3 linked regions of the Homo sapiens genome follow. The protein of the gene in region 2 purifies or fractionates together with the protein of the main gene of each other region. This does not show direct contact. Each region holds a gene or a part of one and is shown on either strand. Other genes may lie near its edges. The genes, in order: UBR3, EGFL7 and RCN1.

Region 1 (9,517 bases), on a different chromosome or scaffold from region 2:
ATAATATTCCATTGTGCATATATACCACATTTTCTTTATCCATTCTTCCATTGGTGGGCATTTAAGTTGATTCCATATTTTGGCTACTATGAATGGTGCTGCAATAAGCATGGGACTTCAGGTCTCTTTTCCATATATTGATTTCCCTTTTTTTGGATATATACTCAGTAGTGGAATTACTGGATCACATGGTAATCTATTTTTAGTTTTCTGAGGAACCTCATACTGTTCTCCACAGTGGCTGTACTATTAATAATTTACATTCCCACCAACAGTGTAGACACTGTGTTTTGAAAGCAGGTAACTTGTTTGACTTCACAGGTTCACAGCTAGAGAGAAATCTGCCACAGGATGAAGCGTATCTTTGAGTCTCACCGTATCTGATTGAAATGATGTTTAGATGAGACTCAACTTTAGACTTTTGAGCTGGTGCTAGAACAAGTTAAGACTTCTGGAGTTACTGGAATGGAATGAATGTATTTGTATGTGAAAAGGACATAAACTTTTTGGGGGCGAGGGGCAGAGGCAGAGCACCAGTCTGAACGTGTGTCCCCTACAAAATTCACATTGAAACTTAATCTCCACTGTGGTGGTATTAAGAGGCGGAAGCCTTTGGGGATGTGATTAAGTCATGAGGGCTCTGCCTTAAGCAAGTGCTGGAGGGAACTACCTTAGGCCCTGTTTGCCCTCTTCCCCGCTTCTGCCATGTGAGTATGCAAGAAGGCCTCACCAGACACACACACACACACACACACACACACACACACACACACACACACACACACACACACACAAATGCCTTAATCTTGGACTTCCCAGCTTCCAGACTGGAATAAATAAATTTCTGTTCTAAATTACTCCGTCTGATGTAACAGCAGCACAAACAGACTAAGATGGATGGCAATTTATGTATTCTGCCATAAAGTATTCCATTGAATGATTAAACTACAGTTCACTAATCTCACTGTTTCCATTTTTCCCTATTTCAGTGTTACAATGAACATACTTGAACATGTATCTTTCTGCAACCTCCTCATATTTAATGTGATGCCAGTCAACATCTTAACAGAAGTTTTCCAGAGAACTTGACAAGCTCCTGAAATTCAAATGAAAACAGGAACCAAGAACAGCCAAAAACCCTTTTGAAGACTAATAATAAGGAAATCCTGCCATATCAAAATACATTTTAATGTTCTAATAAAGTAGTATGGTATTGTTATAAGAGACATATCAATACAATAGAGAACTTAGGACACACATAGGTTTGGTCTGTGATAGAGGTGACATTATAGATCAATGGAGGAAAAAAATGTTCAATAAGTGAATCCTCATATTGAAAAAGATAAAATTAGATCTAATGATATGGTTTGGTTGTGTCCCCACCCAAAATCTCATCCTGAATTGTAATCCCCATAATCCCCACACGTCAAGGGTGGGATGAGGTGGAGGTAACTGGATGATGGGGATGGTTTGCCCTATGTTGTTCTCATGATAGTGAGTGAGTTCTCACGAGATGTAATGGTTTTATAAGCATCTGGCATTTCCCCTGCTCGCTTCTCCCCCCCTGCTGCTCTGTGACTAGGTGCCTTCTACCATGATTCTACGTTTCCTAAGGCCTCCCCAGCCATGCTGAACTGTGAGTCAATTAAACCTCTTTCCTTTATAAATCACCCAGTCTCCAGCCGTTCTTTTTCCTTTTCTTTTTGAGACGGAGATTTCCTCTTGTTGCCCAGGCTGGAGTGCAATGGCGTGATCGCGGCTCACCGCAACCTCTGCCTCCCAGGTTCAAGCAATTCTCTTGCCTCAGCCTCCCGAGAAGCTGGGATTACAGCCACACGCCACCACACCCGGCTAATTTTGTATTTTTAGTAGAGATGGGGTTTCTCCATGTTGGTCAGGCTGGTCTCGAACTCCCGACCTCAGGTGATTCACCTGCCTCGGCTTCCCAAAGTGCTGGGATTACAGGCGTGAGCCTCCGGGCCCGTTCAGGCAGTTCTTTATAGCAGTGCGAAAACAGACTAATACAGACCTCAATCTCATACTACATGTAAAAATAAATTCCAGATGGACAAAAGACCTAAGTGTACAATGAAAAACCTTAAATCTTTCAGTAGAAAACATATAAGCATTTTTTTAAACCAAGGTGAAGAAGATTTCTTTAACAAGATACAAATAATACAAACTGTAGAAGAAAAACTACATTTTTAATTTAAAATCGTTTACAACAAAATTATATATTTCAAGGTAAAAAGACAAGACACAAACTAGAAGATGAAATTAAGTATTTATACAACAAAGGATCAGCATCTAGAGTATGTACAGCATTCTTAAAACTCAGTAAAACAGAAAAACAAAACAGGCAAATAATATGAACCAGCAGTTCACCAAGAAAGAAGCCCAAATGGCCCCAAAACATATGAAAAGATGTTCAACTTTACTAGTCAAGAAAATATAAATTTTAAAAAGATGTTTGTATCCAACAGATTGGTAAAATATTATAAATTTATATATATAACACCAAGTGTCTTTTGGTTTTTTTTTTTTTAAGTTCTGAATTACATGTGCAGGATGTACAGGTTACATAGGTAAATGGTTGCTGTGGTGGTTTGCTGCACCTATCAACTCATCAACTAGGTATGAAGCCCAGCATGCATTAGCTATTTTTTCTGATGCTCTCCCTCTCCCTGCCCCCGACCCAACAGGCCCCTGTGTGTGTTGTTCCCTTCGTGGTGTCCATGTGTTCTCATTAACACCAAGTTTCAATAAGCAGAAAAACAAGACCTCAAATTCCTGGTGGGGCCAGGCGTGGTAGCCCATGCCTGTAATTCCAGCACTCTGGGAGGCTGAGGCGGGAAGATCACCGGAGGTCAGGAGTTCGAGACCAGCCTGGCCAATATGGTGAAACCCCCATCTCTACTAAAAATATGAAAATTAGCTAGGCATGGTGGCGGCCGCCTGTAATCCCAGCTACTCAGGCGGCTGAGGCAGGAGAATTGCTTGAACTCAGGAGGCGGAGGTTGCAGTGAGCCGAGATCGCACCATTGCACTCCAGCCTGAGTCTGATGGGGACAGAGCGAGTTTCCATCTCAAAAAAAAAAAAAAAAAAAAAAAAAATATATATATATATATATATATATAGAGAGAGAGAGAGAGAGAGAGAGAGAGAGAGAGAGAGAGAGAGAGAGAGACAGTGCACACAGGAATTTCAGGAAAATGGTTAACGTCTGGAGAGGAAAAGAGAAAGGGAAAGGTGGGTTGACCTTTCTTTGGTTTTTTGACTAAAAGCAACTCTAGAGCAAACATGGCAAAAGGTTAATATCTATTCATCTCAATGGTAAGTACAAAGGTATCTGTTATACTACTTTTGTACTTTTCTGTAAATTCAAATTGTTTCATAATTGAAAATAGTTTTAACTGAGTTTTATAATGATTTAAAAATTAGGCCACGCACGGTGGCTCACGCCTGTAATCCCAGCACTTTGGGAGGCCAAGGCAGGTGGATTGCCTGAGGTCAGGAGTTCCAGACCAGCCTGACCAATATGGTGAAACCCCACCTCTACTAAAAATACAAAAATTAGCTGGGCATGGTGGCATGCACCTGTAGTCCCTGCTACTAGGGAGGCTGAGACAGGAGAACCGCTTGAACTCAGGAGGCAGAGGTTGCAGTGAGCCGAGATCATGCAACTGCACTCCAGCCTGGCAACAGAGTGAGACTCCATATCAAAACAAACAAACAAACAAAATATGAATATTTTAGGTGTAGTATTGGTATTGTGGTTTTGGGGGAGTTGTTTGTTTTTTGCTTTCTTTTCAAGAGATGAGGTCACTTCATGTTGCTGAGGCTGGAGTGCAGTGACTATTCCCAGGTGTGATCATAATCCACTGCAGCCTCTTACTCCCAGCCTCAAGCAATACTCCCAACTCAGCCTCGGGAGTAGCTGGGACTACAGGTGCGAGCCACCATACCTGACATTATTTTTTAATTGTGGTAAAATATAAATAACATAAAATTTACCATTTAAAACATCTTAAGTGTACAGTTTTAGTGGCATTAAGTACATTCACATTGTTTTGCAACCATCACAACCATCGATCTCAAGGACTTTTTCATCTTCCCAAACTGAAACTCTGTACCTGTTAAAAAAATAACTCCCCAATCTCCCCTTCCCTTGGCCTCTGATAATCACTATTCTACTTTCTGTCTGTATGAATTTGACTATTCCGGGCACTTCATATAGACCGAAGCATACAAGCATTTGTTCTTTTGTGCTGGGCCTATTTCATTTGGCATAAGGTCTTCAAGGTTTATCTACATTGTAACATTCTAATGTGTCAGAATTTTATTACTTTTTAAGGTTAAATATTCCATTGTACGTATATTCCACATATTGCTTACCCATTCATCTGCTGATGGACATTTGAGTTATGTTTTAGAGTTCACATCTCTTTACTGAGATGCATACTCAAATATTTTTAAATTAAATTATAAGGTATCTGATATTTGCTTCAAAATAGTCCTGGCTGGGACGAAAAAGCAGTGGGACAGGGAGATAACAGATGAAATGGGATATAACTTTTCACTTATGAGAGCAGCAAAGATCAGAAACACTGATACCACCATATATACTGCCAGAATATGGGGAAACAAATTGTTTCATACATTGTTGGCAGGAATGTAAATTAATTTCTTTGGAGGGTTCTATCAAAGTTGAATTTGCAAATTTCCTTCAACCAAGATATAACTTCTAGGAATGTATCCTCATACATAAGCTCACACACATATGAACAAGTGTATACAAGAATACTGACTGCAACAATGTTTACAACAGCCCAAGTCTGGAAACAATTTAAATGTCTATCAGTAGGGACTGACCGCAAAAATCATAGTACATTACAAAAACATGGAAATACAATGAAATACTATTTAACTTTAAAAATGAAGCAGTTCTACTTTTGAGATAGTATCCATAAATATGTTAAGGGGAAAAAAGCAAGCTACTGAAGAGAGTAACACTATTCAACCAGACATTCACGTGGTTCAATTTCTGGCTACCACAGATCAGAAAACCTAAAAACCTCCCACAACACAGGCCAGGCACCACACTGTGGCTCACGCCTATAATCCCAGCTCTTTGGGAGGCTGAGGCAGGTAGACTGCTTGAAGCCAGGAGTTCAAGACCAGCCTGGCCAACATGGTGAAATACCATCTCTACAAAAAATACAAAAAGAAATTTAGCTGTGTGTGGTGGTGTGCGCCTACAGTCACAGCTACTTGGGAGGGTGAGGTGGGAGATCACTTGAGCCTGGGAGGTAGAGGCTGCAGTGAGCTGTGATATCACACCACTGCACTCCAGCCTGGGAGACACTGCGAGAACCTGTCACTAAAAAAAAAAAAAATCTAGAAATGCTGGATAAATTATAACTAATCTCTTTTAAACACATAAGTAACCTTAAAAGAAAAGGAAATTTCTTACTGAGGGGTAGGATGGAGAAAGGCACCTTTACTTTTTACTTTATCCACTTATTTTTATGTTATAATCAATGTGTATTACTTCTGAAACTAAAAAAAGAATGAAAGCACTCTGAAAAAAGCTGCTATGGATTTAATAATCAATGCCACCTCATGAGTAACTAAAGCAATGTAATCTTACAGTAACTTTTTGGGTATAGCAGCCACTTTTTTATCCAATTTAATTCAAAATTACTGACACCTCCTAAGTACAAGAGACTTAGTAGGTGCTGGCCTCTGGCTAATAGCAAAATGTGGTCCTTATCTTTTAAGGAGCTTAGAATATGTGAGGAAGAACAAGCAAGGAGACAAAAATATCTGTAATATAGGACAGAACATGAAACTCCTCATTCTCTGCACCAAAATTTGAGAACTAAATGTTTAAAATCCCAGTTTCCAGTTAGTATCCCATCAGAGCCCAAAACCAGCTAGTCAGACATTACAGTTGACCCTTGAACAACACTAGTTTGAACTACAAGGGTCCACTTATACAAGGATTTTTTTAACTAAACATGGATCAAAAATGCAGAATTCATGGGATCTGACACTCACATACATGAAGGGCAGACTTTTCATATAAGCAGCATTTCAGTATACCCTGAAGAGTGGGTGGGAGGTGGGTATTCTGGAACCAGTCTCCTATGTATACCATATACTGAGGAACGAGTGTATTTTAGACTTTCCATTACAGGTTATTTTGTTTTGAGTTCATCCACCCATAAAGCATTTTTTTTTTTTCCAGATGGAGTTTCACTCTTGTTGCCCAGGCTGGAGTGCAATGGCATGATCTTGGCTCACTGTAACCTCCGCCTCCTGGGTTCAAGCAATTCTCCTGTCTCAGCCTCCAGAGTAGCTGGGATTACAGGCATGCACCATCATGCCCAGATAATTTTGTATTTTTAGTAGAGATGGGGTTTCTCCATGTGGTCAGGCTGGTCTTGAACTCCCGACTTAAGGTGATCCGCCTGCCTCGGCCTCCCAAAGTGCTGGGATTACAGGTGTGAGCCACCACGCCCGGCCCCCATAAAGCATTTCTGACAATGACTGCACTTACTCACTAGTGGCAAAACTGTAGTTATACATACAGTTTTTTTGTTTTTTTTCCTGAGACAGAGTCACGCTCTGTCGCCCAGGCTGGAGTGCAGTGGCGGGATCTCACTCCAAGCTCACTCCAAGCTCACTCCAAGCTCCGCCTCCCGGGTTCACGCCATTCTCCTGCCTCAGCCTCCCGAGTAGCTGGGACTACAGGCACCCACCACCACGCCTGACTAATTTTTTGTATTTTTAGTAGAGACGGGGTTTCACCATGTTAGCCAGGATGATCTCAATCTCCTGACTTCGTGATCTGCCCACCTCGGCCTCCCAAAGTGCTGGGATTGCAGGCGTGAGCCACCGCGCCCAGCCACATACAGTTATTAGCACACAATTTCCATAGCCTTTGTGATTTCATCCCACAAATGAATCCTCAATTGTTTTCTTCCTTTGGTTTGTATATCTGCTAATACTGCCACATTGATTATATCAATACTACTCAGTCAAAAATAACTAAATCCTCCCCACAGTTCTATAATTGCTAATTTGAAAATTAAATATAAATACAGCTGTGATAGATTCAAGATTCTTCTCCATCTCCAATCAAGAACATCCTACAGGCAACAGTCAGACACTGGTGAAAAGGATTATGGCACAGAAAGATTTATTCTCATTTACTAAGAGCACAAATACAGCTGAAAAAAAGGAATCCTTCCTCTAAAAGTGACTAAACCATGAAATTTACAAACTTATGGCAGTTAGAATAAAAACCCCAAAATCAACACACATTCAATCTTTGGCAATCTAAAGGGGTTTTTAAAATACCAAAAACTTAGAAAAGTTCAAACATTCTGTTCATGCCAGTGTAGTCCAGCTTTGCCCATGAGAACACTGTTACAAGCTGTTGATGATTTCCAGTTCTAAAAAGGTTCCAGAGGCAGTCTTTTAGGTTGCAGAGCTGGTCAACATCACCTATTTCTCTTGAGGCAGTAAATTAGCTGTATAGCCCAGGAAAATTACTCTATCCAATCCAAGCAGTTAGAAAAAATTCAGAGTAATTGCATGGCCACAATACTGTTTATTGTTCAATCTTGCCCTTTATGAAACTGGACATGGCAACTGCTGACACATACAGGCAATAGCTCTGGTTTCAGACAAAGATAATAATAAATCTTTAAATATTATGTATCCGGCCGGGTGTGGTGGCTCATGCCTGTAATCCCAGCACTTTGGGAGGCCGAGGCGGGTGGATCACCTAAGGTCAGGAGTTCAAGACCAGCCTGACCAACATGGAGAAACCCTGTCTTTACTAAAAACACAAGAAAAAAAAAAAATTAGCCGGGTGTGGTGGCGCATCCCTGTAATCCCAGCTATTTGGAAGGCTGAGGTAGAGAATCACTTGAACCCGGGAGGCAGAGGTTGCGGTGAGCCAAGATCGTGCCACTGCAATCCAGCCTGGGCAACAAGAGCAAAACTCTCTCTCTCAAAAAAAAAAAAAAAAAAAAAAAAAAAATATATATATATATATATATAATGTACCAACTCATAGAGGGTTGCCAGACTGGGAAAATAATACTTACCTATGAGACACCAGTAAAAGCAAATACCATGAGGTTAGGATGTTGACTGTCTATAGCCTGGATGCCCTAAAACTGTATGAATACCTTCAAAGAAACTCACTGACATATTTCTGGTAGTACACTGAAGCATCACAAGCGATCAGACTTCCATCTCATCCACGACAACCTGATAATTACCACTGTATTCCAAAAGTCAGGAAAGAATCAGTGTTATTTCCTACCTTCAGGTTCTCTGGAGGCTTTCCTAAATGCTAACCCAGTCCAAGAAGTAAAAATGTCTAAATATCAGTAAAGGATTGCTCCAACTCCTGTTTTGATGTGCCTCTTTAAAACAAAACAAACAAAAAAAGTTTAAAAAGAAAGAAACAAAGGCCCAAATAAGAATAGCATATTAAGGAAAAAAAAAAAGATAAAACATAGAATTGAAAAGAAAAACCAGTAAGAATGCTATTTAGTAGGGGCAGTAAAGAGAAATGGTTGATTAGTCTGGCTCCAGAGCCCTGGAGCCAGCATGCCTAGCTTACTGCCTGTGTGAACTTGAGCAAGGTTTTTAACTCTGCCCTACTTTCCTCTTCTGTACAATGAGAATAATAAAAGTAATAATCTCAGAGTCAAAGAATAAATAAGTTAAATCACATAAAACAGCTAGAATTTGGCCACTTTTAACCAAATAGATAAAAGTCCAAAATTTTACTACTACTCTGTTGATGAGGCTGTTGGAAAACAGGCAGTCTCACAGAGTAATTAGTACTAAGCCTTAGGGAGGGCAATTTGGAAATCACACTTTTGAGAATTTATCCCACTGACTCTCTTGACCAGGTGGGGAAAAGACAGATACACCACGTTTTTAATTTTATACTGGAAAGCCAAATGCCCATGAAGAGACATTAAATCAAGAATGGCAAATTCACACGCACAAAAAATAAAAATAAAAATAAAAAAAGAAATTAAAGAATGGCAAATTGAAAACATGGAACACTATGCAGCAGTTTTTTTAAAAAAATAGAATGACGACACTGATTTTTTAATAGGAAAAATACATCTAAGATAACCAAAAAATGCAAGATGTAGAACAGTGGAAAGTATGTAACCCTTTGCATAAAAAGAGACTGAAAAACTAGGAAACATCTTTGCTTGTTCTGCACCAAGAGAAACTAAGCGGGAAGGAACTGGACAGATAGAAGACTAGATGTGAGAAAAACTTCCGTGTGTGTGTGTGTGTGTGTGTGTGTGTGTGTGTGTGTGTACTTTTTAGCTATATATTTTACCTATTCAAATATTAAATTTTAAAAAGTACTTTTAAAGTATCAGACATACAGTTCAAGAACTCAAATGTTGGCCGGGCGCGGTGGCTCACGCCTGTAATCCCAGCACTTGGGAGGCCGACGCGGGCGGA
Region 2 (9,813 bases):
GGCAGAGGCTGCCCTGGGCAGCTGAGGGGTGGGGACTTAGCTTGGGGGCAGGGGGGGCATCACAGCAGTTTTTGGGCAGGAGTTTGTCGAGGGGGCAGAGCTGGCTGGAGATTAACTCTGGGGATGGGCCCTGGATGAAGGACACTGTTAGGGGCTGGGTCTGGTGCGACCTCAAGGCAAGACTCGAAGTCGGGGGACATTGGGGAGTGGGACCCGGGAAGGAAGAGGTAGGGCAGCGGCCCGGCGGCTTGATGTGGGCAGGGGGATGCCAGGGCGGGCCTGGGGGTAGGCGAATCTCCCAGACCTCATTGCCCCCCACACATATTGGCACAGCTCCCCCCCACAATTCCTGAGAGTCGCCTGGACAGGAAGCGGTGCTAAGTGGAGACTCAATTTTTGAAAGTCATGTTTTCCCGAGGCCAGAGGAAGCCCGTGGTGCTCTCCGAGCCGGTGCTGCAAGCCCCATTTCCCCGGGGGGGGCCACGGCCTCGACCCAGGGGTGCCGGGCGGGGAGGGGGCGGCGGCGCCAGGTGGACCAGCAGTCCGGTCCCCGTGCCCCCAGCGCCCACGGGCTCCCTCCCCACCTGCCCGGCAGCAGCCCCGCAGCCCCCACCCGCGAGAGGCCGGGTCCGCAGAGGGAGGGGCCTGGCTGCGCCGCAGGCACTGGCGGACCCCTCGCGGCGGGAGCAGGGCTGGGGACCGCGGGGCCCACGAGGGAGGGCGCAGAGGCGGAGCGAGACGGACCTGCCCGCCGCCCCCTCCCAGCCGCGCTGCTGGCTCCGGGGTTCGCGGGGGGCGGAGCAGGCGGCACAGGCTGGGCCCCGAGGCGCTGAGTCGCGCCGGGTCGGACGAGGGGCCGCGGCGACCCCGGCCCTCCCCGCCGCGCCGCCCGCCCGCCCGCCGCCGGCAGGGGGAGCCGGTTCCCGGGGCCGCTGGGCCCATTCTCCCGGCCCGGCCCGACCCAGCCGCGGGCGCCCCGGCCCGCTCCGCCCCCGGCCCCAGCGGTCGCGCTGCCTCGTCCCGGAGCCGCCCCCAGCTCCGCGCGCGGCCAGGTTCCCCGCCCCCGGGGGCTCCGCGGGTCCCGCCCTCGACCCAGCCCGGGCGGCGACCGGACCCCGACCCCGGCGCGCCCCGCTCGCTCCGCACTCACCGCCGGATCCGGGGCGCGCACGCGCCGCCGCCACTGCCGCCCGAGCCCGCGCCGTGGGGGCCCCGAGCCCCGCCCCGCCCCGCCCCCGGCCCCGCCCCACCTGGCGGCCCCGCCCCGCCCCCATTGCGCAGACGGGGAAACTGAGGCCCCGCGGCGGACGAGCTGCCCCCGGGCGGGCAGTGACTCTGCTGGAACCCGGGGCTGACGCAAACGCGCCTCTGAGCCGCGGCCCGCCAGCACCCCCTCCGGGAATCCTGGGGCCCGAGTCCCCGCGGCAGGGCGCTCGCTGCGCGGTCGCTGGGGACGCACGACCAAGCCCGGCCGCCAGGAGCCAGGAGAGGCCGCCCAGGGCGCCCACACTGACGGGGCTGCGGGCCCTTTGCTAGCTTTCAAGCCCCCCAGGCTGAAAACCACCCCGGGACGCCCATCTCAGCCGCTGGGGGGCCGCGCGGTAGGCGCCCGGCGCAGGTTAGCACTGAGCTGGGTCCTGCAGCCTCGCAGGCAGTGGGCATCATGACCGTCCCCACCGCAGGCCCAGAGACCCAGATCTCCTCTGAGACCACATGGCAGAGCCCAGGCCTGCCTCCTAGCCTTAGCGTGTTAGGTTGGGGGCCCCTGCGCCGGCCCCCACCTGGCCCTCTCTCAGGCATCAGGCACCCTCACCGGGGTCACTGGGTCACTGCTGAGTTCAGCACAGTCAGGGCCATCGCAGAACACTCCTCCCAGCGAATCCACAGGCCCCCAGAGAGTCTCCTCACACCAGAGGTCCCTGGGCTGGTCACCTCTCTTCTCCAGGCCTCCATTTCCAAATTTATAAGATGGGGCTAAACAGCCCTGGGATCTAGTGACGGTGAGGTCGTGGCCACACAACAATTGTTACAGCTGTTACTGCGGGCGCGGCACGTGGGGCTCGGGCCAGCCCAATTCAGCAGCCCCTCAGACCCCAGCCGGAGCCAGCGCCCTGTGTCATAACCCGCGTGGGCGCCGGTGTGAGAAGTGTTCCCTCGGAGCAAGGGGTTTGCTGGGACTCACCTGGCGGAGGAGAATCAGTCATCCCCCGGACAGGGGCAGGAGCTGCTCCTCCGGGTGGTGGGGGCCACCTGTGCCTCCCCGGTCCTGGGGGCTGCTGGTTGGAGAGGAGTTGTGGGTTAGTGCCTATGCACAGTCCTGGTCACCCTGATGTCTGGGGGCTGGGAAGGGGCCCGGGACCAGCTTTCGGTGCTGCTGTGGGACCTCCGCCTGCACTAGGCCTACAGGCCCCTGTCCTGCACCTACCCCGACCCCATCCTGTCCTGAGCTGATTGTCCTCTCGGATCCGCAGCCCCTGGCCTCAGTAAAATGGGGTTATTGCCTCCAGCCCTGGACTCCCTGGCATGGGGATGGGAGGCTGCTGTGAGTGGAGCTGGAGGTCTCTCCATGTAACCCAGGGTGCTGGGCAAGGGGCCTGCAGATGGGTCCGAGAGGGCCACCAGCTTGGTCCTACCTTGGTGCATGGGAGCTGGAGGAAGGGAGGGGCCCAGGTCCCTGGAGAGGAGTCCCCAAAATGAGGCCGCCCCACCCTGCAATCCAGTGGCCACTGCTCTGGACCAGGGGCCCTGGAAGCCCCTGGCACGTGGTCCAAGGGACGACCAGAGCAGCTGCTGTCAGGGGGCGTTCCTCATCTGACTGGGGAGTCCTAGGCCTCCTGGCGCCCTGAGCCCACGCAGGGCAGCTCTTACCTAGCCCCCAGCAGTGAAGTGTTCAGAGTGGGGCCTAGGGGGCCTCTGGGTGGGAGAGCCACCGCCACCCTCCCTGTCCCCTGCCCCTGGCCTCATCTCTGGATCTGCGGTCACTTAACCCTTTGACCTGCCTCCCCACCTCTCCTGCCTGAGTCTGGAAGAGGCGATGGAGCAGAAAGGGCAGCTCCAGGGCTGCCCCGACTCAGCCCTCGCTGCCCCCATCCTGGCTAGGCACCATTTGGAAAGTGGGGGTTCTCAGACAGGCTTCTTGGTGTGGACGTATGAGACAAAAAGTGGGGCCTTCTAGGACCCACTGTGGTTTTGGGGGCTTTGGGATGGGGCTTCAGCCACTCTGCATGAGGCTGGGGAGAGGGAGAACAAGGGCGTCTCCAGGGTCCAAGGGGGGCCCACAGAGTCACCCATTTGCCCACCGCACCCAGCAAGTCATCCCTAAGCCCGAGCCCCACGTCCCGCACCCTGGATTCACACTGCTCATCCTGGCTACAGATGTGGCTTTGGGGTTCCTCTCCCTCGGGGCCAGTTCCCCTCCCCGGGCCCCCGTTGGGTTGCTCATCCACTGCTAGGGAGAAGATGAGGAGACCTCAGCCCTCGGGACACCGCAGGGCGTAGCGCGAAGCCCCTCACAGCGGGCCCAGCCAAGCTGAACTTTGCTGCCAACCACAGGGGCTGCTCTGCGGAGGGAGAGAAAGGCCAGAGGGTGGGGTTCAGGGGAAGGGCGACTGGGGGTGAAGTGTTGGAGTCAGCAGACTGGATTGGGATCTACGCTGGGCCACCCACTAGCAGGCGTTTGGCCAAGGGGCCTCAGTGGCCTCCTCTGTGCAGAAGGGGAGGAGACTGGGACCCCTCCCCTGTGACCTCGCTGGGGAGCAGATTGCGGAGCAGCCAGCAGGCGCCACGGTCAGCGGGAGTGAGGGGAATGGGGGGCCCGCCCTGTCCGCTCCCTGCCCCTCCGAGGCCACCCCTGCCATACCTGATGCTGCTGGAGCCCAGGCGTGGCCATGGTGGCCGCTGCTGTGTCCTGGGACTGGAGATGGACCCTAGCCCTTGCTGGGGCCTCAGGCCCACTGGCCGCCTGGAGGCACCTCCTGAGGCCCACCTGCCTGGCCTGTCCACAGGAGCCTCCCTTGCAGCCGTGCAGGGCCAGCTTGGTGCAGGGAGGCTCCCCCCGGGCGAGGAAGGGCGGCTTTTTATGCTCCGTCCTGGGTAATCGGGATTGGGATGGGCCCTTCCCAGCCGGACTTCCTGTGTGTGTTCTCCGCTGATAACGGGGACGTGTCGTCGGACAAACAGGAGGCTGAGGGGGGTGGGGGCCACCGTGTGAGGGGGCCTGGACAAACTGCCCAGGGGTGGGGAAGCCGTCCCCTGGGCCATCAGAGTCTAGCCCCAAAACAGCCAGAAACCAGGGCTGGACCCTGCTGGAGACCCTGGGGAGAGTGTGGGGTGGAGGACGCAAGCCCAGGGCCCTCCCAGGACCGTGGGTTCACAGGCCATGCTCACGTGTGGCTGGACAGAAGGGAGCTGCTGCATCTTTGGGCCAAGGATGCTGGGCCCTCCCCCAGGACACCCCCAGATGTGTGTGACACAGCACGGGAGCTTGGAGGGGCCCCAGGCCAAGGCAGGGACCAGCCACACAGGAGCCTTGACCAGTGAGGGATGGCGAGTGGCGAGGCCCGGCAGGAAGGGACTGGGGTGGCAAGACAGGCTGAGCGGTCCGAGAACAGCCTGTTCCGTGGGTCCCTGAGGCCCATGGTGAGGGGGTGACGGGAGGGGACAAGCATGGAGTCCAAGCTCTCTCCCCTAAAAGAGCTGCCAGTGAGGCTGTGAGCCCCTGCCCTGGAGATGGGCAAGCAGGCCCAATGCCCTCAGCCCCACTTCACAGGGGTGCTCTGGGCTGGCAGCAGGCTGCGGCCGGGGGTGTGGGGAGGGATGCGGGACACTGTGGGTGATCACAGGGGGTGCTCTGTCAGATTCCCGGCGTCCCAGCCTCCAGGTCTGACCCTCATCTTCCCTGTTCACACGGCAGTGGGAGCCTCAGGCCGAGCGAGCCACTGTGGCAAAGGTGGGCTGGGTGGGAGGGGACACGGTGCCGAAGGGAGCTGGGTGGCTTTGGAGGGCACGCCTGGAACCCCAGGAGAGCAGGGCCTCTCCCAACCCCGCTGTCCGTGGGGTGTGAGCCCTGCTTTGGGGTCAGCCCCTGTCGGCCTGATGCCTGGGACACCCCCATTTCCCTGGCCCTGGGCGGTCAGTGTGCCCCCACCTCTCCAGCCCCACTCAGCTGGGCAACTTGAGCCAAGGGAGGCTGGGGCAGCTGGGGAAATTCCCCACGGGACTTTGGAGGGCAGGTGGAAACCTCACCCACACGCGATGCGCCTCCCCCTCAAGCAGGAACCAGCTCCCCTCTACCCACGGCCAGGGGAAGGGTCTGCTCTGGGCGCCAGGCTGTGGTCAGGGCTCAGGGCCTCAGCCAGGCAGGACCTCACTCTTCTCCGGGCCTGTTTCTGCACCTGCTTCATGGTCACTGAGCTGGTTTAAGGGGGCGCTCCTGGCACCCAGGCACCGCTGGTCTGAGCGGGAGGGGCCTCTTTCCAGAGGTGGCCCCTGCCCTGAGGTTGGAGCAGATAGGCAGAACCCCATTTCCCCACCTCCTCCACACTAGGCCACCCTGGGATCTGGCCCTTACCCTACTGGCTGCACCCTCAGCCGCCCTGTGCCTCCCTCGGCCCCCTGGCTCTCCCACCCAGGGGCTCATCCTGCCCTGGCCAGCCTGTCCCTCCAGCTGTCAGGAGGGGGTTGCAGTGAAGAACAAGTTGGCAGCAGGCCGGGCCCAGTCCCCCAGGCTGTCACCCAGGAGTCCAGTGCCAGGAGGACAGCCTGGGGAGGACCCAGACTCTGCCCTCGCCCCTGGCTGTAAGCACAGCAGTCAGTTCACCGGGAAGGCCCCCAGCGGGCCAAGCCTTAGCAACTCGTGCACTCGGCTACTTAGCTACTCCACCGTATAGGGGCCCAGTAGGCTTGTGCCCCCATCCCAGGAGGTGCCCTCTTGCCCTCTGCCTGCATCCCTGCGGCCTGCCCCCTCCTCCCCCACCTGCATGCCCCTGGATCTGCCCTGGCCTCCTGGTGGAAGGACCCACAAGCATGGGGTGGGCTAGATCCAGCCCTTTCTGTGTACAGAGGGGGAAACTGAGGCCCAGAGGGAGAAGTGACCGGCCCAGGTGAGCCTGGAGGCCGGACAGGGCTGGGATGCTCGGCACAGGAGGCTGCCTCACCCTTCCTTCCTCTTCTTGGGGAGCCCCATGTCCCCCACCCCAGCTTGTCCTATGTCCCAACCTGGAGCAGCCCCTGTCATCAGACCTATCCGGCCAGGGGACAGCTCGGGGCAGGAATAGCTAAGTAGCCGAGTGCACGAGTTGCTAAGGCTTGGCCCGCTGGGGGCCTTCCCGGTGAACTGACTGCTGTGCTTACAGGCAAGGGGCGAGGGCAGAGTCTGCGTCCTCCCCAGGCTGTCCTCCTGGCACTGGACTCCTGGGTGACAGCCTGGGGGGCTGGGCACCGCCTGCTGCCAACTTGTTCTTCACTGCAACCCCCTCCTGATAAGCTCTGCCCTGCCCCCAGCCCCTCCCCAGGCCAAGACTAGACCCTCCCCAAGGGAAGGAGGCCTGGGCTCAGGCCCAGAGTGCCAGCTTTGCCCTATCCCATAGCCTGGAGCCACCACAGGAGGGGCACTCCACTCTCTTGGGCTCCTGGAGCCTCAGAGGCAGGTACAGGAGGTGGGCTGCGGCCTTGCCCTAATGTCGGGGGCCCAGCGGGGACAGGAGGGGCGGGGGGTTGGCAGGGGACAGACATGGGTTCTTGGACGCCAGAGGGTACTGGGGGTCCAGGGGGTTGGGGCTGCCCCCGGGTTCTGGTATGGGTGGAGCACACTCTGTGCCCAAGGCCCAGGGGCTCAGCAAGGGGCAGGCGGGCCCCTCCCTCACCCTCCGGTCCTTGGAGGTGCCCCCTTCCCTGCCCTGGCCGCTCTGGTGGTGTGTGTTTGGGATCATGGCACAGACCTTCAGCAGGGAATCATTTTGGGAGTCAGCAGTGCCTCCTGCCCAGGCTCCAGCCCCACAGAAGCCAGGCCGGGCCCCACGCCTGGCCTCCTCCCCTCACCTCAGGGGCCCAGCACAGAGGGGGAGACCTGGTGGGAGAGTGTGGCCACCCCAAGGCCTGCGCCTGTCCTCATCTGGGCACTGGAAGGTCTGGAGCCCAGGGCTTCACCCTGCCTGGGGTGGTGTCAGAGGTGGAGGCCCGGCAGGGGCAGGAAGCTGGAGCTCTGGTCCCAGCTTTGTGCCCCACACAGGCCTCAGTTTCCCCATTGTCTCTCTTGTCAGCAGGGCCATGTTGTCCAGTGGCCTTCCAGCCACCTGGGAATGTTCTGAGGTTAGTTATAAGGGGAAGGGCTGCCTTACCTTCCCAGAGCGTGCTGGCTGGGCAGAGAGGCGTGGAGGGGCCTGGCAGAGCCCCCCGGGCCCTCCCGGGCCTCCCGGACCCCTCACCAGGGTGCTTTTGGCCTCTGAAGCCCCAGGAGAGGGCAGACTAAGCCCCTGGCAGAGGCCAGCCTGGGCATCTCAGGTGGCGCGAGACAGAGGGGCACCAGGCGCGGCCGCGGGAGCCGGGCTGCAGGAGGTGCAGGAGGAGGGAGTGAAGCAGAGTGCGGGAGGGATGGGGCTTCCTGTTTACCCCGAGCGCCCCCCGGCCTCGGACGGGCTGGCTCTGTCAGCCACGGATGTGGTGGAACCTTCCCATCAGAGGACGTCCCGGACCCGACGGGGGCTGGAGGGAGCTGCCAGGCAGGGGTGCCTGCGGGCAGAGGAGCCGTCTGCTCCCGAGCGAGGGTTTGGGCAGGGAGAAGTGAGGGTCCCCAGCCTTTCCTCTCACCTCTCCCTGCCTGCTCCGGCCCCTGACCCACGTCCCAGAGCGACACCCTCTGAGTTGAGGGGCTTCCATTTTCAGAGGAGGCAGCTGGCTCACAGGTGGAAGCCGCTTGTTCAAGGGTGGAAAACGGAGGCCCAGGACTGGAGTCCGGGCGCCTGAGCCTCGGGGGTCGCCCGGGGGACCCCTCGCCCTTCCCCTGGCCGCTCCCGTCTCCCTTCCTGGGGCTGCCCACTGCTCCAGCTGATGGCGTGGAGGAGTCCATGGCCTTGTGGGCTGGCTTCTTGGCAGGTCCCCACCGGCTTTGCATCTGAGTGTCCCCTTCTCCTGACATTGCCCCTACCCTGGTCCGGTCCACCCCGCTTCCTGCCTGGATAACAGTCGCCCCTCCTCGGCCTTGCTGGGCGCCGCTGCCCTTCACACCCAGTGCTCAGGGAGTTTCGCGGAGGGACACATCGGGTTGTGTGACCTCCTCCTAAGGCGCCACCACACTCAGCACAAAGTCCAGTCCTGCCGGTGCTCCATGCCCCTGCCCGGGTGCGCGCTCCACAGGGCAGGGACCCGGACCTGGAAGAGGTGACTTGGAGCAGGTGCGCAGAAAGTGCGGAGTCCCCCACTGCGCCGGGCGTGTCACCCGTTGGTGGCCTGGCAAACTTGAACTGCAGCGAGACGTGGGCTTAGAGATGGGAAAGTGAACCTGAGAGGGGCCGGCAGCCCGGGCAGGAGACACAGCCCCTTGGCCACACCCCAGGGGACCGGCATGCCCCACTGCTGGCAGCAGGTGATGGGAGCATCCCTGGGAGAACAGACTCCCCCCAGTTCTGCACACACTGCTGGTGCCTTGGAGCTCTTACCAGCCTGGGGGCTTAGCTTTGAACATCTTCGTGTTATCTTTTGGCAGACGTGAAGATAAATGCAGTTCCCTTAGGCTGTCCCTGGGGGGTCCCCAGTCCCAGGAGGGGCAGGAAGCCAGGGAATGCCCTGCAGTTCTCAGGTCCCCTGCCAGCAGTGCAGGAGCATTTGGCCGCCCCACACCCTTGTCAGCACTTGCTGTTGTCTGTCTTTTTCATTTTAGCCATTCTGATGATTTTGCAGTGGTATTGCTGTATTGTTATTTTTGTTCATGTAGGAAGGTGAAGAAAATCTTATTTTTTAAACGGCAGAATCCGTCCCTAGGGAGAGACTTGCTTCACAGGGGAGACACCTGGCTGGGGTGAGAGCGCAGTGTGGGCTCAGGGGGCTGTGTGCTGCAGGCTCCGTGGATGTCCCCAGCAGCACCCAGGGAGTCTGGAGGGGAGGAGAGAGAAGAGGCCTCCACTGTGGAGTGAGCCTGGGAGAGGGGTCCCCAGATGGACACTGGGTGCTGCCTGGCAGCTCACGAGGTGGGCACTGGTGGTCTGACTTGAGAAAGCCTTGTGGAGCAGCGTGAGCCCCAGATGGAGCCCCTAGTGTGTGGGGCACCCCTCCCCTGGGGATGCCTGTGCTTCTGGGGTCTGTGGGCTTCTGGGAAGGGTGTGGGGGGTCCCTCCCTGGAGGCTTCATCCCTGTCTCTCTTGCGGGGTTGTCATAGAGCTCCAGTAGAGTCAGGGACCATGGGTGCCCTGAAGGCTTCTCTGCCTCAGTTTCCCCTCGTGTCAGACCAGGGCATGGAGGGTCTTCGGAGCCCTGGGGAGGGTCCCGGGGTCTCCAGTTCCCAGTCATGGGGCAGACAGTTTGTGCCTGGGTCCTTCCCAGGAGGGAGGAAGGAGGGGTCCGTAGCTTCCAGCAGATTCTTGAAGGAGGGTCATGTGACCCTCGAGTGAGTTCAGAGTCCCCACCCAATGCAGCTGCCAGGGCCTCGCGTGTCCCTTCGGGGTCCTCAGCGCCACGAACGGGGCTGGTCCCAGTGTCCAGCTTCTGGGATCCCGCTCCTGCAGGCCCTGGAGACTGCTTCCCACCCCTGCTGAGGTTCCCATGGGGCTGAGGAAGGGGGACTTGCCGGCCCCCTGAGGCTGCCCTCACGCCTGGCGCCAG
Region 3 (9,983 bases), on a different chromosome or scaffold from region 2:
AGAGTTAGACTGAGGGGGTGGGTATAAAAGATGGGGTCTATAACATCTTTCTTTCTTAGAAATGTATTTCCTAGTCCCATGGAAATGGTTGCATTAGATGTTCTCTATCATTTAATAATATACTTGTGGACTAAAAGATAAAAGTGCTGTATGAAATAAGCCAATTATGTTAAACTAGCACATCTGCCTTTACTGCGTTTATCATTAGTCTGAATAGAAAGACCTTTAAAATTAATTTTTTAGAAAGCATTTGAATGCATTCTTTGCTATTGTATTTATTCAATAAAGTATTTAATTAGTAAAAAGATATTGTCTTCTGCAATATCTAACCTTCTGTTAATCTTATATGGTGTATTTTTCATCCCAGATTTCAAAGTTTTGCTATCTAGGCTTTCAATTTGTGTCTTTTTTGTATTTTCTCTGGCTCTTCTGAACTTTTAAAACATTTAACACAATTACAATAATTGTTTTAATGTTCCTCTCTGTTAAGTCTAATATCTGTGTCAGTTCTGGGTCAGTTTTTACAGACCGATTATTCTCCTCGCTGTGTTTTCCTGCCTTGCTGTGTCTTTGATTGGATAATGCAAATTGTGAATTTCACCTTGTTGGGTGCCAAATTTTTTTTTTTTTTAATTCTTGTATGTTTTCTTGAGCTTTTCAGGTCTTGCCTTTGTGCTTTGAGAGGCACTTTCTGGAGCAGTGCTCAGTCTAGGGTTAATTATTCCCCACCACTGAGGCAAGACCTTACTAAGTACCCAGTGCCCCATGAATGATGAGTTTTTCCAGTCTGACTGATGGGAACAGGTACCATGCCTGGCACCCACTGTTCCTTCTAATCCTTTCAGATGGCTCAGTCCTCAGCCTACACGCATGCACTGTTCACCACTTTGCTGAATGGCCAAGGGGATCCTCTGTGGAGCTTTGGGATTCTCTCTCTGTGCAGCCATCTTCTCTCCAGTACTCTCTCTTTAGAACCACGGCTGACTTGGTCTCTCTGGACACTCACTTCTGTCTTTTCAACTTCAGGAGTCTGCCAGGATCCATCTTAGTTCTCCCTCTCTGCACAGTGACCTGGCAACTCTGCCAAGGTAATTCTGGGGTAATCCTGGGACTCACCTAGTTTGTTTCCAATGTTGTTCATTGCCTGGTGTCCAGTGTCTTGAAAACTGTTGCTTCATATATTTTGTTTGTTTGTTTCAAATGGGAGGATAAATCCAGTCCCTCCTTCACTCCATCTTGACCAGAAGCAGAAGTTGGTAGCTATTGTTATTTTATCATTCATTCAAGATATTTTAGGGGCACCTACTATGAGCCAGGCACTATACTAGGTTGAGTATACAGTGGTGAGCCAAAAGAATATGGTCCTGGTCTCACAGCAAATCTGTCTTATGGCGATCAACTTCTGCCAGAAGGCAGTAAATATGGTAGGCCCTGGATTTACGAACATGGACATGAATCGGCTGTGATCATTTCTCTCAAGGAATTCAGAATTAGAAGGGAAGAAAAATTAATACAAAGCTGACTGTGAGAAGTATGTGAGATACAAAGGCTCTGGGCATATTGATGAAGAAATAATTAATTCTGATTTAAGGTATAAGGGAAAACTTCATGGAGAAGGTGACATTTGAGTTGGGACCTGAAAAGTTCATGTAATTTTGAATGGTGGAGAAGCAGGAGGGAGGTAGAGATGCTGAAAGTGCTTTTAAACATGTGGCAGACACAGCTATTTGGCTTGTTCTTCCTCGCCCACAGAACCCTAATCATGTGCTTCAGAGGATGCTACATACAGTACTTTCCAGCTCCTACCAGTGAGTCTTGATTGGTTGAAATCAATCATGGAATTTCTATTCCCCATGCCTGTCACTGGATCCAGCATAGGCACATGACACAATTCTGGCCAATGAGATATGAGGGACAGTCTGCTGGGAAAGTTTATTTTTCAAAGAAAGGGAGAGAACATTCCTTTCCCCTACTGTTTCTGAGGGAGAAACAAAAACAAAAACAAAAAAACCTGATTCCTTGATGATGTCCTGAAACCACTGAAATTAACCAATCTGAAACCAATATAACTCATGACTTCTTGTTGCATGAGATGGTAAAGTTTTCTTCTTGTTTCAGTAACTTCTGGTTGGATTTTTGTTGTAGTTGATGGTGTTACTTTTGGCCAGATGCGGGAGACCAGCATACCCTAAGCTGATCAGTTTACCCATTTGAAACTCGCTTTTCCTTTTCACTGAATCAACCCTCTGCTAAATGTTACTTATCTTGTTCTTGTTCCTCTGCTTCATCAAGAATGGAGGTTAACCTAAGACCTAAGGCATGACAATGCACTTAGTCACTCTTCCCAAACATGCACATGGGGGGGAGATGCAAAACAGCTTTGAAAATGAAAGAAAGCAATTACACAGTGCAATACCTTGACTATTCTGTCCCATCATCCTTCCTGAACCTTTGATTGGGAGGACTTGAACTCTTATGGTAGGGTGGAGGGATGAAAATAAATATAAAGGAAAAGAGTGTAGGCAAGCCCAGGGGAAATTATGTAAATTCTTCCGGATTCACAGCAGTGCTAGAATTCTCTGGTAATTCCCACAGGAGCCAAGACTACCTCTGAAACAATCTAACTGTTGGAAACCACCAGTGTCTGGCAGGAAGCCAACTATAACAAGGGCAAAAGATATGCCTTTTTGGAGAGTCTGGACCAATCCCAGGGACCCAGGCCAGCCTGTGGCCAAAGTTGTGAATATGCAAAAACTGTCACCAGTCTCCACTCGCTTTCCCGTTCCCTTCCTAGTCCCCTTCTTTTTCTAGCCCCAATCTTTTTCTCCCTGTTCCTCCTCCCACTCCTCCTTCTCCTCCCTCACTCACTCAACAATTCATATCCTGCTTGCCTGATGAGCACAGAAGGTACTAAACCGCCTACCTTAGGACACTTGCATTTCAGCAGGGAGCTCTTACACCCCCAAGGTAATGCTCCTCTATTGCTAGAAATTCAGATCTCTAGGCTGGCTGGGGGAAGCATGTCTGGTCTCAGGCACAGTACTTCTTGTGCCATGCAAAGTCAGCTGGTGGGAAGGGGGGGATCCAAGGAAAAGAAGGGGACTAGGAAGAGAAGCGGGGATCCAAGGACTGGCTTCCCAGCTCTCACTGCCAGCCAGTGGGGTCACAAAGACATTGCCTCAAATGTGGAGCTGTCCTCTGCTAGCTCGTACAGGATCTTATCCTTCTCTCACATAACTACATCCTTCCATCTAGCTTATCTTACTCACCTTCAGTCTCAATTTAAATGTGTCTTCCTCTGGGAGGCCTTCCCTGATTGATTCCCATGTCTGGATCGGTTCAGTACCCCCAGACCACTACATGCCTTTCTCTGTGAGCACTTGTCATGCTGACTTGTGATCCATGGATCTCAGTTAGCCAGAATCCAGCACAGCCTGACACTTAGCAGGTGCTCAGTTTATGGAACGAACGAACGAATGAACATCTGTTCATATACACTATAGCTCTGCAGACACCATGATTATCTTGTTCTCCATTGTACCCTCAGCACCCAGTCCAGTGCTTAGGCTGTAGTAGTAAGACAGTAATGATTTATTAATTGATTGAAAGAGGGCGTCCCAAGAAAGGGACTTGCGTCTATGTTGCGACGACATCTTTATTGCAAGGGCAAGAAGCACATCCCAGACCTTTTTGAAAACATCAGGGATGGAGGTGGGAGGCAAGGCAAGATGGAGGAAATTTCTAGGAGTACAGATATTTAGCTGTCATGGTGGGTTTCCCTCTTCAACTATCGTTTCAGTTTTCTAGGGTTTTTTTTTTTTTTTATGGAGTTTCTCTCGTTTCCCAGGTTGAAGTGCAATGGCATGATCTCGGCTCACTGCAACCTTCGCCTCCCAGGTTCAAGCGATTCTCCTACCCCAGCCTCCGACTAGCTGAGATTACAGGCGCCCGCCACCTCGCCCAGCTAATTTTTGTATTTTTAGTAGAGACGGTGTTTCACCATGTTGGCCAAGCTGGTCTCGAACTCCTGACCTCAAGTGATCTACCTGGCTCCGCCTCCCAAAGTGCCGGGATTACAGGCATGAGCCACCGTGCCCGGCCTTCTAGGGATTCTTAACCTGGGGCTCATAGGTGGGGCTTCAAAAGATCCATGAATCCTCCGACTCTTTAATCAAGCACCCGTGTCAGTAGCTGTATGTGCATTTTTCTGGAAGAGGATCATGGCTTTCAATGAGTGTCAAAAGGCTGAGACTGCTCGAGACCTCACCGTCCAATACGGTAGCCATTAGTCCCGTGTGGCTCTTTAAGTTTAGATTTAAATTAAAATTTCAGTGCCTCACTTACACTAAGCTACACATCAAGTGCTCAACAGCCACTACCTACAGGCCAGACCAGATAGAGGGCATTTCCATCATTGCAGAAAGTTTGATGGGACAGATATCTGTATTGGTAGCATTACCAACTGAATACAGGTAAGATTGGATCCAACTAGTGCTTTTGTAAAATGAGTTACCAACATTTAGAAATAAAACATAAAAATCTAAAATCCTGATTGATTTCATTTGGGAAACAGGACTATCTATCAGCGTGGGGCCTGCGTTCCCCTGGCAGCTGGAACGCACAGTACCGCTCCCTTTAGAGGGACTCTTGGTCATATAGAAGTTCCCCGCTTGACCCTCCTTGACGACTGACAGTACGACCCTCGTTTCTAGGGGACTTCGCCCGTCTTGGTCTCCTTCCAGGCTCGCGTTTGTAACCAGACTCCAAATTTTACTAAATGGGGTTGAATTGGGTTTGAGAGCACATCTTAGAGCAGGGTCTAGGGCTGAGATTCGGGGTCTCAGTTGGAAGTTGAGGAAGGGCAACGTCTCCTTCCTTACAGTTTTCCCGGAACTGTAGGAAGTCAGAGGGAATTTTATCCTGCACATCTGTTGCTTGACAAAGAACTTCCCAATCCTCCTCCGAGCCCTCCAGTCCCTAGCCCAGTTCGCCCGGGCCCGCCCCTAGCAACAAGATCGCGGGGAGGGGCCGAGGCGAAACACGAGCCCCGCGCCCACCACCCCAGCTGGCGACGTGGCTCCGCGGCCCCGGCTTCCCCCGGCAGCTCAGCGACCAATGGGCGCGCGAGCGGGGCCGCCCGCAGCTTCCCAGCCCGAGGCCCAGGCGCGCCCCTCTGCTCCGGCTCGGGGCGGGCACTGGCGGAGGGACTGGCCAGTCCCCTCCTCCGCGCCGGCCCCAACCCTGTCGCTGCCGCCGCGCTCCGAGTCCCCATTCCCGAGCTGCCGCTGTTGTCGCTCGCTCAGCGTCTCCCTCTCGGCCGCCCTCTCCTCGGGACGATGGCGCGCGGTGGCCGCGGCCGCCGCCTGGGGTTAGCCCTGGGGCTGCTGCTGGCGCTGGTGCTGGCGCCGCGGGTTCTGCGGGCCAAGCCCACGGTGCGCAAAGAGCGCGTGGTGCGGCCCGACTCGGAGCTGGGCGAGCGGCCCCCTGAGGACAACCAGAGCTTCCAGTACGACCACGAGGCCTTCCTGGGCAAGGAGGACTCCAAGACCTTCGACCAGCTCACCCCGGACGAGAGCAAGGAGAGGCTAGGGTGAGGCCGCGGCCAGGGCCCCGTGGGGGGCGGCGCAGGTGTCCGAGGGCCGCCTGGGCGAGAGCCACGCGGGATACCACCGCCAAAGCGAAAGCGAAATCGCGCGCGCGGCCTCGAGGATGGGGCCCTGCCCAACTCGGCGCTGGGGCTCAGGCTAACTTGCTGGAGGGCCCCGGGACCCCAGCTTGGAGATCGCCGCCGCCGCGCCCCGGCCGGGGTGGTTTCTCGCGGGGAGGCGAGAACGTGGCAGCGGCCGCGGGAGCCAGGACGGCGAGGGCCCGCCCCCTCCCCCAGGTTGCATCAGAAGGGAGGGGAGAGTGCACAAAAGAAGAGTTTGTCCACAGTGGCCTGTTAGTGCCATGAGTTCCTCCCCACTCTCTCGCAGTTTCTCTCTGATCCCCCACTCCCGGGGAGAAGGGCTTGAGACACTCGCTAAGAAAATCTCAGGGATGAACATAAATGGATAAAAGATGAAGGGGCAGGCGAGCGACAGGCTTGCTTCCTGGTCTCGGCCGCAGTGGTCTTGCCTTTTGCCTAATCGCCCTGTAAATCTATCGTAAGGAGTCTGGGCGCGGTGACTCACGCCTGTAATCCCAGCACTTTGGGAGGCCGAGGCGGGGGGAGGGGTGGGGAGATCACCTGAGGTCAGGAGTTCGAGACCAGCCTGACCAAACGGCGAAATCCCGTCTCTACTAAAAATACAAAAATTAGCCGGGCGTCGTGGCACACGCCTGTAATCCCAGCTACTTGGGAGGCTGAGGCAGGGGAATCGCTTGAACCCGGGAGGCGGAGGTAGCAGTGGGCCGAGATTGCGCCACTGCACTCCAGCCGGGGCTAGAGTGAGACTCCATCTCAAAAATAATAAAAATAAAAATAAAATAAAATCTAGTGTAGGGATACAAAAATCCGGTTGAAAAGGGACACGCAGTTTCCGATTGGAAACACGAGGGAGCAGGAATGGAAACGGTTCGCCTGAAACGTTTCTGTTGGCAGCAGATGTCTGCAGAAGCACTCAGTTCTTTGGCAACTGATTTGTTTGGGGGGCAAAAAGCTGGAGGGTTCTCTTGGTGGTGGAGGATTTTGACTTGGGCTGTTAAAGGCAGTTGAGTCAGGAACCAAACCCGGGAAACAAAACTTCGGCGCATTTTAGTACACCCTCCCCGGGTCCCCTGAGGAAACACTTGGGCACTGTGCGGAGGTATCTGGTGGTCCTTGCACAGAGGACCCAGCAGGCAGCCTGGTCCCAGATGGAGGCAGGGCTGGGGAAGAAACCAGCAGTCCTGCCTATTGGGCACCAGGTCTCAGATCTCCCTGAACCTGATTCCTGGGGGTGGAGGATCTTCATGTTCTGCCACATGAAAGAGAACACAGCCATCCCTGTGCTCCTGGGGGCCTCCAAAGGCCAAAGTGTTTCATTGGAATATGAGGATAAATTATACCTATTGTGTAGGTGCACCATTTGCCTGCTCTGATAAAAAGACCTTTGAACTTCAAAGTCACCTCCAAACAATTACCTTTTATCTTGCAGAGTACTTTCTCTTCTCAGTTAGGACTTAACAATAGGGGCCATTGATGAGTTCAGTCTATTGTATTGCTTTGAGGCACTTGGAGACTGATTTATCCTGGAGCCCTGAGTGGCAGCCACATTGTCACTGGAGAGGAGGCAGGGAGAGGTTTTGGGATTTGGAAAACTTTATAAGGTGTGGTCATGCAGCTTCCAGTTAATGCCTTCATTGTGACAGTTCAGCCTAGTAGTGAGAAAAAGTGACGGTGAAGTTGGTCTGGATTTGATCCTTGTATCAACACCTTGACTTCATTCATTTATTCATGCAACAAACATTTGAATGGCTACTGTGTACCAGGCCCCAGTTTAGATAACTGGCAGGTACAAAGATGAAACCTTATGCTCTGGGCGTCGAAGTGCTTGTAAGCAAATGTGGAGGAGAGAAGCACAGACAAACTAGCCATTATGCACAATTGCTGCAATGATGGCCTATAAAACCTACTGTGAGCACATTCAGGAGAAGGAGCCGCCAAGGCTGCAGGTTAGAGAGAGGGGATTGGGGCTGTCACCTGATCAGAGTTTGTAGGATGACTTGGAGGTTGCCAGGTGTACAGCAGGGGAAGGCCTTCCTGAAGAGAAAACAGCCCATTTCTAAAGGGTTTGAAAAGCGTTCTGGGGCATGAGGGGTGGTGAGTCTGCAAAGGGGCAGGGAAGGGAAGTGAGAGGTGAGAATGGAGGGGAAACCAAGGGCAGAGCAGGAAGGACCTTGGTGAGATGGACATGAGATGTTATCCTGTACATTGTCAAAATGTCATAATCCCCAAAACTCATTGGGAAAGTCAGGCTGGCAGGAGGGCAGTACACAGAGAACATAATCAAGGCACAGACTAGACCAGTGGCAGGGAGAGGAGGTGAATGCCAAAGGGGCTTGGTCTCTCCGGATTCCAGGAGGGGATGAATCTAGACACCAGTGGGAGGCAGAACTGGCAGCTCTTGCTCTTGACTCAATGAGGGGGAGAAGAGAGAGGTAGGAATCAAGGGGACATCCGGGTCTCTGGCCTTAGCCACCAGATGGGTGATGGATGCACCATTCACTTGTAGGTTAAATGTGGGGTAGAGGCGGGGTAGGAGGTGCTGGAAATTATGGGTCCTGTTTGGGATGGGGCTGAGTGTGAGAAGCTGCCCCTCTGTCCAAAGCTTCTGTTTCAGTGGTCCCCTCCAAGATTGGGCTGAGGAGGAATGAGTGTGGCTGGATCTAGGCAACTTTGTCACCATCACCTGTCAGTCCTGAAAATGTGACAGCTCTAAGGCCCCTAAAGACACCTGGACCAGAGGTTGCAAAGTGGGAACCCGTAGGCTGCATGCATTCATAAATATGCGACACAGTGTAAATTACTTGCCCACGTTTAAAGTTTGAATGGTTTCACATACAGACCCCCATATCTGGCTTCTCTTGACACCTTTATTCCCATGTGTCAGTCATCGTCTGCAGCAGAGTCGGCCAGCCCTATTTGGCGGCTAGCAGGGTACCTCCAAGTGGCCATAGGTCCCATCAAAAGGTTTTGCTCATTCTGTTACCTGTTGGTGTTGAGAACAAATGATGATGGAGTTGGTCTGGGTTTGCTCCTTGCATCAACACCTTAACTTCATTCATTTATTCATGCAACAAACACCCGAATGGCTACTGTGTAGCAGCTACCATCAGCCACTGATCTAGATTATTGTCTTTAGTGAGGAAAAGCATGCATTCTCTCCTTTATTCCTCACAACATTCCTTGTGAAGTAGGTGTTCAGTTTACAGATGGGGAAACTCAGAGAGTCAAGACACTTGCCCAAGATCACGCAGATAATGGGGACCAGAGGCAGGACGGGGATCCAGGTGTTCTGATGAAAGTGCTAGGCTTCATCTCCATCCTAGCTGCCTTTCCCAGGATCTCCCTTGACATTGTTAAAGAGAAGGTTAAGATCTTATTTATTCTTACAACAAATATTTATTGAGTCCCTAATATTTGTCAGGCTGAGCTATGTCCTAGATGTTTATTTGGCATAGATTAGATGCTGTCCTTTCCACAAAAGAGGATTGTAGAGTCTGATGTCATTACCCTGAGATTATGTTTCCCAGTTGGCGTTGGGTAACCCACTGGCATGTCTCCACTGTGTCCCCAGGATCAGAGCAGTGCTTGGCACATAACTGGGCTCAACACTGCACAATGTTAAAAGAATTCTGCTGTGTCTGGCTATGATTTCCTGGGGGAAGAAGCCTGAAGACACTTGAAGTTTCATGTTTTAGTCTTTTTTTTTTTTTTTAAAGACAGGGTCTTGATTTGTTGCCCAGGCTTGTTTACAGTGGTACAGTCATAGCTCACACTGCAGCCTCGACCTCCTGGGCTCAGGCAATCCTCCCACCTCAGCCTCCTGAGTAGCTGGAGCTACAGGCATGCATCACCATTCCTGGCTAATTTTTTTATTTTGAGACGGAGTCTTGCCCTGTCGCCCAGGCTGGAGTGCAGTGGCGTGATCTCGGCTCACTGCAAGCTCAGCTTCCCAGGTTCACGCCATTCTCCTGCTTCAGCCTCCCGAGTAGCTGGGACTACAGGCACCCGCCACCACACCTGGCTAATTTTTTTGTATTTTTAGTAGAGACGGGGTTTCACCGTGTTAGCCAGGATGGTCTGGATCTCCTGACCTCATGATCCACCTGCCTCGGCCTCCCAAAGTTCTGGGACCACAGGCGTGAGCCACCATGCCCGGCCATTCCTGGCTAATTTTTAAATTTTTTGTAGAGTCAGGATCTCACTATGTTGCCCAGGCTACTCTCAAACTCTTGGCCTCCTACCTCAGTCCTCCCACCTCAGCCTCCTGAAGCACTGGGATCACAGATCCAGCCTA

What was found.
Region 1: the proteins of EGFL7 (region 2) and UBR3 purify together in Homo sapiens (co-immunoprecipitation; 2 studies listed by BioGRID and IntAct, with this or other methods). This does not show direct contact.
Region 3: the proteins of EGFL7 (region 2) and RCN1 purify together in Homo sapiens (co-immunoprecipitation; 2 studies listed by BioGRID and IntAct, with this or other methods). This does not show direct contact.

Annotation. Positions count from the first base shown.
Region 1 is NC_000002.12:169,829,665-169,839,181, reverse strand, and holds part of UBR3 (E3 ubiquitin-protein ligase UBR3), read right to left. Parts: intron 1-9,517. UniProt on the Homo sapiens protein: E3 ubiquitin-protein ligase which is a component of the N-end rule pathway. Does not bind to proteins bearing specific N-terminal residues that are destabilizing according to the N-end rule, leading to their ubiquitination and subsequent degradation.
Region 2 is NC_000009.12:136,657,155-136,666,967, reverse strand, and holds the start of EGFL7 (epidermal growth factor-like protein 7 precursor), read right to left. Parts: upstream 4,053-9,813; 5' UTR 3,890-4,052; coding exon of another isoform or gene 3,860-3,889; intron 3,561-3,859; 5' UTR 3,345-3,560; intron 2,280-3,344; exon of another isoform or gene 2,277-2,279; coding exon of another isoform or gene 2,183-2,276; intron 1,201-2,182; exon of another isoform or gene 1,151-1,200; intron 1-1,150. UniProt on the Homo sapiens protein: Regulates vascular tubulogenesis in vivo. Inhibits platelet-derived growth factor (PDGF)-BB-induced smooth muscle cell migration and promotes endothelial cell adhesion to the extracellular matrix and angiogenesis.
Region 3 is NC_000011.10:32,085,861-32,095,843, forward strand, and holds the start of RCN1 (reticulocalbin-1 precursor), read left to right. Parts: upstream 1-5,213; 5' UTR 5,214-5,336; coding exon 5,337-5,590; intron 5,591-9,983. UniProt on the Homo sapiens protein: May regulate calcium-dependent activities in the endoplasmic reticulum lumen or post-ER compartment.